Linked DNA regions of Homo sapiens: region 1 is linked to region 2. A link means that fine-mapping ties the variant in region 2 to the expression of a gene that starts in the linked region. Tissue or cell type: T cells. Region 2 holds a variant in brackets; the other region holds the start of a gene. All regions are shown on one strand. Distances are from middle to middle. Region 1 holds the start of SDCCAG8 (SHH signaling and ciliogenesis regulator SDCCAG8). Region 2 overlaps SDCCAG8 (SHH signaling and ciliogenesis regulator SDCCAG8).

Region 1 (4,262 bases), 32 kb before region 2:
GAAGCCACTCTCTCCTCCCCCGGGTTTACTACAGAGCCAGAGCCTCCACGGGGTGCAGTCGCCAGGCAGGGTGCATGACACCGCGTCTTCCACGCCCTCCCAACGCGTCCAAAAGGTTGCTCGCCTGACCTCGCCAACCGCCTCACACCCCAAAACCAATCACACAAAAGGGATTGGCCCGGGGAGCTGCTCCAATGGGGGAAAAATCCCTTCCCCAGCGGCAGCGCAGCCATTCCCTCCAATGCTCCGCCCGCACCCCTCGCAAACTGCTACGGCGGAGGGGGGAGGGCTGCACAAAGCCAGTCGAAAGCTGAAAATGATTCAATGCACTTAGGGGATGCGGAGGCGGCAGCAAGGGGCTCGGGAAAGCCGGGGGGCCGCAGGACTGGAGCTCCGGGGGGCGGCGGGTGGGGGATGGGAAGGGTGGTCCCGTCAAGCCCCGGGTCCCAGGCGGGCAGAGGGTGGGGGTGGCGGCGCCGCGCGGAGCACCCGGGAAGCGCCCCCTTCGCGGTCCAGCCCCGCACCCCCGCCCCGCGGCGGGCGGCGCCCGAGTCCTCGCCGCAAACCCGAGGAGCAGGATGTGGAAAGCAGCCGCGGCGGTGGCTGCGGCTGCGGCGCCTACACCGAGCAGCCGATCGCATCACTTACCCCTTACCGTGGAGAGAGGGACCGGACGGGGGAGGCGGGGCGCGTCGCGTCCCGTGAGTCTCTCGCACGCCGTCCTCCCCCCACCTCGTCGTCGTCGTCGTCGCCGCTGTTGTCGTCGCTGCCGCTGCGGTCGAGCTCCGGGGCCCTCAGCTCCGCTGGGCAATAACGTTATTCCACACACGCCCCACACATAGCGGTAACGGCAAAGACCGACTGCCTAGTGCGCAGGCGCCTCGGGAAAGGGCGAGGAGCCGGACCCTATCCCCTCCTGCCCAGTTCCAACGATCCCTTACTGCGCAGGCGCCACACACAGACAATGAAAAGGGGTTGTGCGAGGGTCTCACCCACACGCTTTTCCAGCTTGCCCACTGCGCAGGCGTGCCCCGAAAGACCAGCTTGAACAATGAAGAGGACCTCGGCGTTAGGTGGGACCGCAACCAACAAGGACTACAGTTCCCAGCGGGCAGAGCGCCAACTCCAAGTGAAGGTCCGGTTGCTGGGCATGCTAGGAGTTGTAGTGTCGGCCGCCTTTACAATCTAGGCTGTTTGGAAGATTTAGAGCTTCTATTTCTTGAAGATTTATTCGACCGTTTTAAAAAATCTCGCAACTGAAGCAGGGTTCAGAGTTTACTATCTGCGTCCTTGAGTAGCCTGGGGATCAACTGCTGCATATTAGCAAATTTCGAAGCGTCAAGGCCTTCAGTGAGCCCTTTCTGTCATTTGGGTGGTCCAGGCAGCTGAAGAGTGGGATGGAGGCGGGACTAAACCAGGCTGGGCTGGAGGAAAAGGGCGGGGCCTGCAAGCCTGTCTCTTGGCAGCAGGCTCTGGCAGCCAAACCGTCCAAGCTAGCGCCTGGAGCGCAGTGGTTTCTGGGAATTGTAGTGTAACTGGAAGGCCCTGAGGATTGTCGAGCTTGCAGGTTCTGAACGTGAGGACTACAACTCCCGACGTGCAAAGCGAGGGCCAGTGGGTGGGAAGAGCCCCCAAGAGCTCTGTGCGGGATTCTAGGCTCCCCTGTGACAGCCGCGGCAGGAAGCAGGCGGGCGCTCCCCGGCCACAGGCCTGTTGTTCTCGGAAGGGAGAAAGCTGGACATTTCCCCACGTAACTCCCAGCTCTGGGCCTAGAGTGCGTGCATGGCGAAGTCCCCGGAGAACTCTACCCTGGAGGAGATTCTGGGGCAGTATCAACGGAGTCTCCGGGGTGAGTTGCTCCAAACCTCTGTCCCTAGCCCCGAGGTGCCCAGGGCCTAGTGGGCGGGAGCAGACCAGGTGCGTTTCCTAACACCTGGGTTCTGCCCCGTCCACGCTACAGAGGAGCAAGATGGATGTTGCTGTGGTCTTGAGGAGGATGAAATAGTTTGATTTAGTTTTTACAGTTAAGCAACGATGTTTCCTCAGATTCCCGTAGTTACCTCAATCAACTCCTTGATCTTAACTTGGCATCTTTCTCAACCGGCGACAGCAGAAACTCTTGGATAGCTCTATGCCATTTTTGTTCAGTTCCCATACGTTGCTATTTAATCCAATAAAAGTCTGATTCACAGTTTTTACACATTTAAATTATGGCACAGTGGATTGAATGTGATTTATGGGATCAGTGGGGGGAAACACTAATAATTATTTTAATCACAAGAGCCCCCTTTTAATTGATTTAGGCTATTTACATACAGTAAATCATCTGCAGCTTACACCAATCGTGTGAATATTTTACACATGGGGAAAGCGAAGCTCAGAGAGGTTGAATTACAGGCCAGAGCCCACACAGCTGGTTAGTTGCAGAGCCAGGTATTATCAGGCTTGCCTTCAAAGCCTATGTTTGTATTTACTAATCAAGCCATAATTACTATTATCAAAACCTTATTAATTTAGATTTTCTTACCACATTACCATATGAGCAAGTATCTGTACAAATAATGTCTGTATTTATTTTCCTTTAAGCTCTGTTGGACTTAATGTCTGTACTTTTAGATGGCGCTGTCAACTTGGACAGCATATATAACATCTAGAAATTTCGATTCTGTTATAATGGAAGTTATGGAATTGTCCATAGGGTTATTGTGGGGAGCAAATGAAATAATCCCCATAAAGCAGTGATTTTAAGACTTCTTAAAATGTTTACCTATAGTAAGAAATAAATTTTATATGGGACATATGTGTACATATAAACTATAAGTTTCACTGAAGAATTTTTATTCTACTAAATGTAATAAACTCTGCTTTCTATTCTGTTGCATTTTCATAAGCCTCTAGGTCATGACTGTTTGCGACATTGAGAATACTAAGTTATGAAGCATGTGTTGTTCTGCATAATATGCCTACTATGTGTCAGTGCCTCCTACTATGTGTTAAGCATACTAGGTGCTAGGCATGCAGTAAGGAACAAGACAAAGTTCCTATCCCCATGGAGCTTCTGGATTAGTTGGGGAGAAAGACAAAAAAAAAAAATAATTATAGATTACTATGATAGAAAGTAAGGGTAAAGATCAGTGCTTACTAGACAAGCACTCATTAAATGTTAATTGTTATTTATACTTGTTACTTAAAGCAAAGTGAAGGTTTTTCAATATTAGAAAGTTTATCTTCTCATGACTCTAGATTTTATAAGGGTTACTATGTATTGTTACATCTGTCAATTGTGTTAACAAACTGTCGACATTCTCAGTATTCAAACTGCAGGAGTAAAAAAATCGGTTTTAATGAACACCTTCCTCAACCTACTGATGTTTCAAGAGCTGTTAGATACAAAATAAGCACTTCTAACTTTTCATTTGGAAGCAAGAAAAATACTGTGCACAATGATATGAGTAATTGTAATTTTTAAGATTGGCAAAAATTTTTTGTTTTCATTGAAAGTTTTTCCTGATGCTTCTCTTCCTTTGACCTTATTTTAAGTCTTTATATAATTGTCGGAGGCTGTTTAACATTAGGCATTTTGACGCAGTAAAGGGGTTCATTTTAAATTAATGTTATAGTAATATGTTTAATACTAGTGGTACTGCTTTCAATAATTACAGAATGAAGGGTTTTCATTTAAGGATAATACATTTTAAAATTAGTTTGAAATAAAATTTAAATTTAGTGTGATAACAATATAAGGTAGTGGAAACATTTCACCAAGAGCAAATACGAAGGATAGAAAAAGTTAAACAACTTAAAAAAAAACGTATTCATAATTTTAACAGTGAATCAGGAAATGTAACCTGAAATGTTTATGGGTTTTTCAGGACATATCATTTATTTAGTAGCACTTTTATTTTTGTATGTTAGCTTATATAACAGCTTCTGGAAGGAAACAAAACAGAATTAACTCTGAACTTAAGTACAGTCAGAAGTTCTTCACAAATATAAATTGCTATTTTTGAGTAGTATAATTTATTTATTTAGAGATGGAGTCTCACTCTGTCATCCAGGCTGAAATGCAGTGGTGCCATCTCGGCTCACTGCAGCCTCTGCCTCCTGGATTCAAGCAACTCTCCAGCCTCAGCCTCCCAAGTAGCTGGGATTACAGGCACGCGCCACCATGCCCGGCTAATTTTTGTATTTTTAGTAGAGACTGGGTTTCGCCATGTTGGTCAGGCTGCTCTAGAACTCCTGACCTTAAGTGATCCGCCCAC
Region 2 (4,262 bases):
CAAACACTTCTGGATGCATCCGTGAGCATTATTTTAAATCATAAATTTTATTTTAGTGTGAATATTCCCTTCTGCCCTCTCTCCTCGCCTTCTTCGCTGCTTAGATTTTCTCCCTGAAGTGTGGCCAAAGTACTATGTTGGTATTTGTTTGAGACCTCAAATATCAAACTTCACTGTGGTGGAATGAATCCTCAGATGAAACGATCTTGTGATATTTTGCTACAGTTTCCTCTCTGAGCATACCGTTTCTGCCTTACCATATGGAAAGAGCCGGTCTGAAAGCAGGAAGTGTGTTATACAGGAAGGACTTTGCTAAGTCTAGAAACCGTTCAGAACTTTAACTTAGATTTCTGTTGGATTTCTCTAAATTTTCCTTGAGGTCTGAAATCTAATAAGTCTAATTAGCTGCATGATGTAGCAGAAAAAATGTTGGCCTTAGGATCCAAGAATCAAAATGTTAGTCTTCCCATTTCCCTAAGAAGGCTGGTGTTTAGCAAGTAATTTTAGAAGGTTTTACATAGCTTAATCACGTATGTCCTTTATTTCTTTATTGGTAATTTGAGAAGATTAACCTATACCAGGAGTTTTCAGTGCAAATTCCTGGACTCCATCCCCTGTGAGTCTGATTCACTTGGTCTGGTTGGCTTCTAGGAATCTAAACTTTCATCAAGTTGCCTAAGTGATTCTAATGTCAGTGGCCCAGAGTTTGAAGAACGTTGGGTCAGATTATCTCTATAATTCTGTGACAGAGAATTATTGTGGTGACATTTAAATAGTGCTTAAATCTTATGACTTATCAGAGTACTTTTGTCTTAAACTTTTTGTAACTGTTTTGCTATAAGATATAGTCACAGCTTGTTCTGCTTTTTGGGACAAATTCAACTTTCCATGTGGAAGTTTTCATACTTGCCTATTCCAGCTTCACTTTGCAGTTTACTTTGGTGGTTTTGACTTTGTCGTCATTAGTAAATCAGCTGTTAAGAAAACATGAAAGTCTTGATGTTTCATTGGGATATCCTCTAATTTTCGTTTTTGAAGTTTTTTTTTTTTTTAACTTGAATTGATAGTTGGTTTATAATCCTGGAGTTGTATATGTTAGGGTTTGCTATTGAGAAGTATAGGAGTGTATTAACTCTGATAAATGAAGTGGGCTAATTAGTATTTCAGTTTAATTTTCTGCAATTGCATTTAAGTTTGTGATCAGTTCTTTTCTCCTCACTGTATAACTTTTTCCTGAAGATTTGTATAATTATTAGTGGTAAAAACTCCATCTTAGTTGCTTATGATTTTAATGTCAATTTGAGGAAGATATCACCATATAGAAAATACTTAGAAGTAGCTTATTTTAAAAATATTCATTTGCTTTTCTTCCAAACACGTGGTCACTTAGCAAGCAGTGATTCAATTATTCATAGTCCTCAGTATTTATGTAATGCCAAAGAAGTGGAAGAAGGGGAAGTGAAGTGAGAAAGGAAATTAGGCAGACAAGTGAATCAGAGGGCAAGAGAAATGAGTAATGCAAAAGGGGAAGGAAATGATGGTCAGAGCACACATGCCTTGCAGCATGAGCAAAGAAAATGTGCTAAACAAAACTACAGTCAGAATCATAGAAAGGATAAGGTTTTAGAGAGGTTTTGTTGTTTTTTAAACATTCATGTGAGCTAAATATAATGCAGGTATTGAAATGATTACTGCAGATATGCCAGATGACCTTGATATCTATTTTAATGTTAATCTTCTGTTATTTGTTGTTGTTGAATTGTTACCCCCACGTTTTACCTGTGTAAGTGAATTGAAATATTTCAAGGCCAGATACAGTGTCTTACGCATGTAATTTCAGCAGTTTGGAAGGATGATCACACGAACGGATGGATCACTTGAGCCCAAGAGTTCCAGACAAGCCTGGGCAACATAGTGAGACCCCATCTCTCTAAAAATAAAAAAAAAATTAGCCGAGCATGCTGATGTACACCTGTGGTCCCAACTACTTTGGAGACTGAGGTCAGAGGATCCCAGGAGGTCAAGGCTGCAGTAAGCCCTGATCACGCCACTGCACTCCAGCCTGGGCAACAGAGTGAGACCTTGCCTCAATAAAAACAAGACAAACAAAAAACCAGACATTTCAATAATACATGCATGGTGCTGTGTTACAAGTTGTAACATGAATAAAAATGTTTAGGATATCTTAAATATAAAAAATCAAGAAATATCTTCTTTTGGGGGGAAGGGGTTTTTGTAATGAGTCAATTAAAATGTTGGTGCTAAATCTTCCCTTGCTATATTGAAGTTTGCTGATTTCAATATAGATTTTCAGTGTTTCATAATGCCTTTTAA[G/A]AAAGATAATTGAGGTGGCCAGGCGCAGTGGCTCACGCCTGTAATCCCAACACTTTGGGAGACCAAGGTGGGTGGATCACGAGGTCAGGAAATAGAGACCATCCTGGCTAACATGGTGAAACCCAACTCTACTAAAAATACAAAAAATTAGCCGGGCGTGGTGGTGGGCACCTGTAGTCCCAGCTACTTGGGAGGCTGAGGCAGGAGAATGGTGTGAACCCAGGAGGCAGAGCTTGCAGTGAGCTGAGACTGCGCCACTGCACTCTGGCCTGGGCGACAGAGCAAGACTCCATCTCAAAAAAAAAAAAAAAAGATAATTGAAACATTTATATGGTGTATTAGGTTCTCTCAAAGGACAGAACTAATATGATATAATATATATATATGAAGGGGGTTTATTAAGTAGTATTAACTTATTAACTGACACAATCACAAGGTCCCACAACAGGCCATCTGCAAGCTGAGGAGCAAGGAAGCCAGTCTGAGTCCCAAAGCTGAAGAACCCGCTGTCTGAGGTACAAGAACAGGAAGCATCTAGCACAGGAGAAAGATGTAGGCTGGGAGGCTAAGCCAGTCTAACCTTTTCATGTTTTTCTGCCTGCTTTATATTCGCTGGCAGCTGATTAGATGGTGCCCACCCAGATTAAGGGTGGGTCTGCCTTCCCCAGCCCACTGACTCAAATGTTAATCTCTTTTAGCAACATCCTCACAGACACACCCAGGATCAATCCTTTGCATCCTTCAATCCAGTTAAGTTGACACTCAGTATTAACCATCTCATATAGTAATAACTAACATTTATTGATGACTACATGGTTATAATGTGCGAGGCACTGTGTCAAACTATTTACGTTATATTACTTCAGATTTGCAGTACCCACACAAGGCAGGTGTTATTATCTCTGTTTTCAGAGGAGTAAATTAAGGTACACAGCTGTTAAGTAACCTAAGTAATTGGCCTAATGTCACAGAGCTAGATAATGGCAAAGCAAGGATTCAAACCCAGGACTATCTAATTCTCTAAATACACCCCGTAGAACCTTAAATTATACCGCCTTTCTGCATAAGTTAGGAAGAGCTTGTCGACATTGAACCAAACCATCTTTGTTTGCAGAGGATAGAAGTTTTCCCTGGCAGAAAAGAGAAGAATCTCCTTTTTATTGTCTCCTGCTTGTAGCCCTGGACTTTGATGGTAGCCTGTAAGACTTTCAACTTTTGGTCTAGTTTATGACCTAGAAGTTAAAGAAGCAAGCCATTCAAAGTATATTTCATTCCTGTCCTGATTTTTCATCACTTTGCCTTCTCATAAAATATTTCCTCATGGAAAGCTTTTCTCTAGAGTTCACAAAATCAAAATAATACGAAAACATGTTATTTATTCAACATTTTGTCATGTGTCCTTCTTTAAAGATCCAGGAGTTTTTTCTTAAGGAGAAAATTTCTCGGCCAATATTTTTCACGTTTGTTTTCATCCCCTGTCTTACCACCGCTCCCGCCCCCCGATCCCCTGCCACCCAATTAAGAAATCAAAGGTTTTGAATGATCTTCAAGGATTTAACATACTTAGGTTTTTAAAAACATCTTGGTTAAGTAGCATTCAAGTTTTTTAAAACTATCTGTGAAAGAACAAAATGTCCGTTAGACTAGCAATTCTTTCCAAAGAATGATAATATTTTATATCATAAGTTAGTGATCTGTGGTCTACATGCTCCCTCCAATTTCTCCATAGAAAATTAGTACCACCCTCCTTCATTGATCTCAAAAACAACTTTAAATGCAATCATATCTTAGGGGATTTGACTCTACCGAGAGAATCAAGTGCAGACTCATTCCATGGTGTGGTATACTCTCAAGTCCCTTACTTGATTCTTTAGCTTCATCTTCTGACATTCATCACCTTATGTTTTGACGTCTAGTAATGCTGAATT

Evidence for each region. PIP is the estimated chance that this variant, and not a neighbour inherited with it, causes the effect.
Region 1: it holds the start of SDCCAG8, and the variant in region 2 is the best candidate, but not a certain one, in a credible set for the expression of SDCCAG8 in T cells (TOPMed, PIP 0.56).

What each region holds. Positions count from the first base shown.
Region 1 is chr1:243,254,392-243,258,653 of GRCh38, forward strand. SDCCAG8 (SHH signaling and ciliogenesis regulator SDCCAG8) reads left to right here and starts at 1,650. Exons shown (of 18, transcript NM_006642.5): 1 at 1,650-1,849. The coding sequence starts at 1,783. CEP170 (centrosomal protein 170) reads right to left here and starts at 890. Exons shown (of 20, transcript NM_014812.3): 1 at 649-890.
Region 2 is chr1:243,286,377-243,290,638 of GRCh38, forward strand. It overlaps SDCCAG8 (SHH signaling and ciliogenesis regulator SDCCAG8), which reads left to right. Exons shown (of 18, transcript NM_006642.5): 5 at 1-21. Among named protein-coding and RNA genes, the nearest start is that of SDCCAG8, 32 kb to the left of the region's middle. The variant G/A (reference allele first, on the strand shown) is at 2,335.